Homo sapiens: one gene and its partner. The protein of the gene in region 2 interacts with the protein of the main gene of each other region in a pairwise test. Each region holds a gene or a part of one and is shown on either strand. Other genes may lie near its edges.

Region 1 (3,500 bases), on a different chromosome or scaffold from region 2:
CTAATAATGTCCCGCCTGAGCTCTCCAGTGGCTCCCTGTGGATTCCTGTGGGTTTCATGCAAAGACTGAGCTGCTCTGTGGCCCGAATCGTCTGGCCCCTCTGGACCCCAGGACGCCCCCAACATCTCTGCCTGGCATATCTTGGGCACCTCTCTGCCTGCCCTGGAGCACCGGTCCTCACTGTTCCCATCACTCTTCTCCCTCCTGCCTGCCAGGTCTTTGCTCCGACCCCACTGCTGCCTCCTGTGCACCAAGGCACGGTGACCACCTCCAACACAGCCTGGTTGCTACCAGCCACCTCCTCCCAGGCAGCTGTGCCAGGTGCAGATGACACCTGGAGCACTGCCCTTTTCATACCCGAGTGTTTCCAAGGGCCTCGGAAGTGTTTAATCAGCATTATTTTAAATAAACATTGAAATATATCTACAGCGTAGACCTATCATAATTATTTTGCCATTTTTCCAAGGTTGAACATTTAGGTTTCTCTCTTTTCACAATCATTTTTTTTTCAAATACTGAAATGAATCTTTTAAGGCTTCTTATTTTTTATTATTTATTTATTTACTTATTTATTTATTTTGAGACAGAGTCTTGCTCTGTTGCCCCGGCTGGAGTGCAGTGGTGTGATCTCAGCTCACTGCAACCTCCGTCTCCCAGGTTCAAGCAATTCTCCTGTCTCAGCCTCCTGAGTACCTGGGATTACAGGTGTGTGCCACCACGCCCAGCTAATTTTTTTGTATTTTTAGTAGAGACAGGGTTTCACCATGTTGGCCAGGCTGATCTTGAACCCCTGACCTCAGGTGATCCGCCCACCTTGGCCTCCCAAAGTGCTGGGATCACAGGCATAAGCCACTGTGCCTGGCCTTTTTAAGGCTTTTTATACATGCTGGCAGATTGCCTTACACAAATACTGTGTCCACTTAGGCTTTATTGCTTTTATTTTTTTTTTTTAAGAGAAACATAAACAGTTTTCCTAATATGTTGTACCATTTAAAGGCAGCAGAATAGAAGTCATCTTATTGCAAAAACAAGACATTGGAGGGAAGAGAGCACAGGGCTGGAGGATGTGAGAGGCGTCCTGTGCGGGTGGGCGTTCATGGCTGGCCCCCAGTCTGTCTGGACAGTGGGGATGGCCCCGCTCCCATGAGGTCTCCCCGCCCCCGCTGCCCCAAGCTGCTTCCTCAAGGGGCAGAAGCATGGCCAAATCCACCGCGGGAGAAATGGCCCGTCCTGGTCCTGAGGAAGCTGAGGTCAGGACAGTCTAATCTGCTGCTCATGGATAACTAGAAGTTTACTTTCACGAAATTTTGTTTTTGTAAACTGATTTTTTTTAACGATTTAAATGTTTTTTACCTAAATGACAAAGGCATTGCTTGTTTAAAGCAGTTTAAATGATAGTATCTTTTAAGGCTTTAAGTAAACACAGCTGGCCTTTTCCTTTCTGAATGCAGTGACATTTTTATGGCTATGTATTGCTGAGGTTTGAGGGTAGATATGGGAGAAGTTCAACCTTGTCCCAAATATGTAGCGTATGGGTTAGGTTGTGTCTGTGACATGGTAAGAAGACCTTGGACTATTTGTCTATGCTTCTCTGACTGTAGTATTGCTACACGTGAGGAGATATAGCAATAGACGGAGGAGTAGATTGCACGTGTGCCGTTCTCTTCATTAGGCCATCGCCAGTGTTATTTTAAAATCATGAGCATTTCACAGACATTGGTTATCTCAGTTCTTAAGCAGTTTGGAAATTTTACCTTTATTTTAAAGCACATTAAATTCAAAGCTGTTTTGTTGGTAGCATTCTTTACATATGATTGCAGTCATACTGCTGTCTGGCAATTCCCCACTCCAACTGCATTCCTGTTGGAGCATGGAATACCTCGTAGTAGTTTGTGTTTGCTAATAAGAATTATCTTCCTCCTTTTACAGATGCAAGTAGTAACAGAGTTAAAGACAGAACAAGATCCAAACTGCTCTGAACCCGATGCAGAAGGAGTGAGCCCTCCCCCTGTGGAGTCTCAGACCCCGATGGATGTGGACAAGCAGGCCATTTATAGGTAGTGCCCGGGGTGCCGGCTGTGGGGGCCTCAGAGGAGTGAGGAGTGTCCACAAGTTTGTTAAAAGGAACACCAGAACTAGTAGCGAGGCAGAGTTGTGAGGTGCCATTATGATGTGATAACTGCTCGGCTGAAAATTTTCTCAGATTAAGATGTTATTTCTGGCCAGGTGTGGTGGCTCATGCCTGTAATCCTAGCACTTTGGGAGGCTGAGGCGGGCGGATCACTTGAGGTTAAGAGTTTGAGACCAGCCTGGCCAACATGGTGAAACTCCATCTCTACTAAAAATACAAAAATTAGCCAGACATGGTGGCACATGTCTGTAATCCCAGCTACTTGGGAGGCTGAGGCAGGAGAATCACTTGAACCGGGGAGGCGGAGGTTGCATTGAGCTGATATCGCACCACTGCACTCCAGCCTGGGCAACGAGAGCAAAACTCTGTCACACACACACACACACACACACACACACACACACAAAGATGTTATTTCTAATACCTATAAAAGTTTTAGAATATCAATCTATAAATTTTGTGTAACCTTGCAAAAAGAAATATTCAGGCACAGATGATTTTACTGAGAATTCTACCCAACATATAAAGAAGAAGAGAGCAGCAAGTCTGCATAGTCTCTTTCAGGAAGTAGAGGAGGAGTGAATGCTTCCCAACTCACTTTATAATTGACATCACTCTGACACTAAGACCAAAGACAATACCAAATAAGGAAAATACAGGCCAATATCCTTCATGAACTTAGATGTAAAAATCATCAATAAAATATTAACAAATCAATTCTAGCAATATGTAAAAAGAATAATACGTAGCGACCAAGTCAAGTTTTTCCTGGGAATGTCAGACTTGTTTAGTATTTAAAAGTCTGCCAGGCGCAGTGGCTCACACCTGTAATCCCAGAACTTTGGAAGGCCGAGGCAGGTGGATTACCTGAGGTCAGGAGTTCAAGACCAGACTGGCCAACATGGCGAAACCCTGTCTCTACCAAAAAATACAAATATTAGCCGGGTGTGGTGGTGCATGCCTGTAGTCCCAGCTACTCTGGAGGCTGAGGTGGGAGAATCACTTGAACCCGGTAGGCGGAGGTTGCAGTGAGCTGAGATCATGCCACTGTACTCCAGTCTGAGTGACAGAGAGTGAGGCCCTATCTCAAAAAAAAAAAATTTTTTTTTAAGTTCAGCATAGAATTATATATAACTCAGCAATTCTACTCCTATGCATATGTATACCTAACACAAATGAAAAAAGTCCACACAAAAACGTGTACATGAATTTTCATAGCAGCACAGCCTATCATGGCCAAAAGCTGGAAACAGTGCCCATGCCCATCAACTGATGAATGAACAGACACATTATGGCATCTCCATGCAATGCAAGAATATTTAGCAGTAAAAGGAATGAAGTGGCGGGCGCGGTGGCTCATGCCTGTAAT
Region 2 (3,500 bases):
TAGTCATAAATCAACTACCTACAGTTCCTTATAAGATTGATTTATATTTCTAAATCAAAATGAAACAATAATTGCTACTATCCTCTCAGTTCCAGAAAACCACATATGCTGTCCTCAAACCCCAAACCACAAATGCTAAAAATTATGAATAAGAGGAATGTCTATTTGCTTACATTATAATGAATAAAGAAATAACTAGAGTCTTGCATTGAGAACAATCAGCTCATTCTTGACCTAGCATCCTATTTATCTTTCTATTCTCAAGGCTAATTGCTTATATAAGCATGCCAATTTGCCTTGATTATAGGATTCTTAATAAATGAATGTTGTTTACATTTCACAAGTATATTTGAATTTCACTACAGGAAGCCAAGCTCATCAAGTCTTTGTAAATGGTAAAACCAGAGATCAAAGCAAAAGGGCTGCATTGAACCAACAAACAATTAGGCTACAGAATGGAGGCCTAAGCAAAAATGCAATTGATTTATTGATTGTTCTACTCCAGAAGTATACTTCTGGGTCATTGCTTAATCTTACACCATATGTATAGAATTTTCTCACAAATTTTCATTATGATAATTTGGTGGTCATTTCTTAAATAGTTAAATAAAGTCTCTCTACCATTCAACAGGATTTATCCTTTTCTTCTGTATTTTTTCATCTTGTTGCTTTTAGTTGAATCAAATATCTTTCATTTTTTTAACTCTTCTCAACCTTCTCAATTTTGCCTAATCTATCCAAAATTTTGTTTAACTTCTTAAACAATCCCTTTTCTATTACACTCATTATCTTGTTTTCTGCTGGTTTTAACTCATAGGCAAATTGGCTTGGTCTTTGGGGTAGGAAGAAAAAGGGGGAAAACATCTAGCACAGTGGCTGTCAACCTTGGCTGCACATTCAAACCTTCTAGGGAGCTTTTAAAAATCCTGATGCCCAGGTCACATTCCAGACAAATTTATCAGAATTTCTGGGAGTGGAACCCAGGCATTTGTGGGTTTCTGTTTTTGTTTTTGTTTTTGTTTTAGAGATAGTCTTGCTCTGTTGCCCAGACTAGAGTGCAGTGGCATGATCATAGCTCACTGCAACCTCAAACTTCTGGGCTCAAGCAATCCTCCTGCCTCAGCCTCCCAGGTAAGCTGTGACTACAGGCATGCACCACCACATCTGCTAATTTTCATTAGTAGTAGAAATGAGGTCTCCCTATGTTGCTCCACACTGGTCTAGGACTCCTGGCCTCAAGTGATCCTCCTGTCTTGGCCTCCCAAAGTGCTGGGATTACAGGCGTGAGCCACTGTACCTGGCCCACTTGTACTTTCTGAGGATCGCCAAGTGATGTCAATGCACAACCAAGTTTGAGAACCACTACTTTAACTTACCAATACCCTTATTCTAGCTTAAATAAGGTGTTCTGCCAAACTTCCACGGAGAGAAAAAAAACAAGGAAGGGAAGTCAGGTTCCTGAGCAAACCCTCAACCAAGACAGGTCTTGAGACTAGTGAGATGTGTTATTTAAAAGCACCATCAGTCACACGTTAGTGTCCCAGCACCAGGCACATGGTCAAAAATGTGAACTATTTAAGCCGGGTGTGGTGGCTTATGCCTGTAATCCCAGCACTTTGAGATGTCAAGACTGGTGGATCACTTGAGGTCAGGAGTTCAAGACCAGCCTGGCCAATGTGGTGAAACCTTGTCTCTACTAAAAGTACAAAAACTAGCTGGGTGTGGTGGTGCGTGCCTGTAATCCCAGCTACTCAGGAGGCTGAGGCAGGAGGATCGCTTGAACCCAGGAGGCAGAGGTTGCAGTGAGCTGAGATCACGCCACTGTACGCCAGCCCAGATGACAGAAGGAGAATCCATCTCAAAACAAAAAAATATGAACTATTTGATATTTGACATCATTCCCAAAACCAAGCCATGGGCATCTTCTATGCACAGAAGTCAGTCAAGTGAGATTACTTCTGGGGATAGCAGGGTCTAAACACCTCAAGGCTTTCAGCTTCTGTGGCAATGGTTACAGGGGCTTACAAATGCATCAGAACTTCTGCAAAGAAAAAAGGAGACTAAGGTTACATGTGAAATGAGAGTCACCAAAGTCAATTACAGGCTAAACAAGAACACTGAAGATCATGGAATCACAGAAACTATATGAAGTTTGTCCTAGAAACTATACAAGACTAGAAATCATAGAGAGTTTGTGATAATTGCCTACCAGTGAACACTGATGGTCATGTTTTTCTGTTTGTTTTTTCAGAGAGTGAAAAGAATGTACATTTTTATCTGTCAACATCAAATACCATCATACCTGGTAAATAGGGCTGAATGTTGCCCAATTTCAGAATTCCAAGCCCGTCTGGTCCACATCTCCGGGCCTTGGTTGAGATCACAGTTCAAGAGGCAGCTCTCCAACCTAACAGCTCTTCCCTTAGACATTGCTTCCAAATTATATGCTATCAGTTGGAAACTGCATAGTCCTTGGCATTTATGTTGAAAGACAGGTTTCTGGAAAGGAGGAAGGGGTCACTGGGGAGGAGGGAGGAAGATCACCCTGCAGTATGAACAGATGGAATTCTAAAGGGAAGACAAGCAATGAGCTATCTCTGTCCCCAGTGTTCAAGTAGGTGAGAACTAAGAAGGTACATGAAGGCTCTCTAAGGAACCATGACTCCAAAGCCTAGGGACACACTTCTTATTTGCAGGGATGGCAGTGGCACTCCATAAAGAGCCGCTCTACAAGATGAGATCTGCCAAGCAACTGTATAGCTTGTAACTCACCTTCCCTCCTAAGTTCCTCTAGGCTGTTCCTTCTTTTATAAGGATTCAATGCTTTGTTCCTAAAAGTACTCCAGTTACAGCGTCCTCTTGCAAAGGAGGGGCAATCATCTATAATCAGTGCTTCTTGTATTAGCTACTTTTTTGACATCTATTACTTGCTTAAACCTGAGGGCTGGAGAGCCCACTTTACCTTGTCCCTATTCCCCAAGCTCTAAATATGAAAAAGAAGAGCACTGTTCATTAAGACCAAACCCTTTAAGCAACAGTTCTTATAAAGTCAAATGAATTTCCAGAACAAACATCAGCCCATACGTATCTTTTTCTTCTTTAAGCCCAGGAAGCACCTACCAGGAGATCTTTCCCCACTCTCAGGTGTTATAATTCTATGTCTAGAACCTGCAAGTTGCAGACTCACCTCAAAGAGGGCAACTTTCGAGCCAATAATGTACTTCCTATCTTCTTGGGCTGCAAAGGGCCTTCCAATCACCAGTGTTTGTCACACAGATTATCTGAATAACTTTAACGGAGAACTCACCATCCATTTTCAACAACTCTACATGTTAGAATATTTTTCCCTATGCTCATATGACTTTCAGTCACTGACCCTGGGGAATTCTACTCTTTAGACCACACAGAACACCCCTACACACATTTCCACCTGAAAGCTCTTCAAAAGCCAATGTCAACTAATGAATCACAATGTATTATGTTCTGGAAATTTTGTTTTC

What was found. Proteins that work in one complex are often made in the same cells at the same time.
Region 1: the proteins of FMNL2 (region 2) and PKNOX1 interact in a two-hybrid assay, tested with the Homo sapiens proteins (one large-scale study listed by BioGRID and IntAct).

Annotation. Positions count from the first base shown.
Region 1 is NC_000021.9:43,005,562-43,009,061, forward strand, and holds part of PKNOX1 (homeobox protein PKNOX1), read left to right. Parts: intron 1-1,929; coding exon 1,930-2,057; intron 2,058-3,500. UniProt on the Homo sapiens protein: Activates transcription in the presence of PBX1A and HOXA1.
Region 2 is NC_000002.12:152,341,674-152,345,173, reverse strand, and holds part of FMNL2 (formin-like protein 2), read right to left. Parts: intron 1-3,500. UniProt on the Homo sapiens protein: Plays a role in the regulation of cell morphology and cytoskeletal organization. Required in the cortical actin filament dynamics.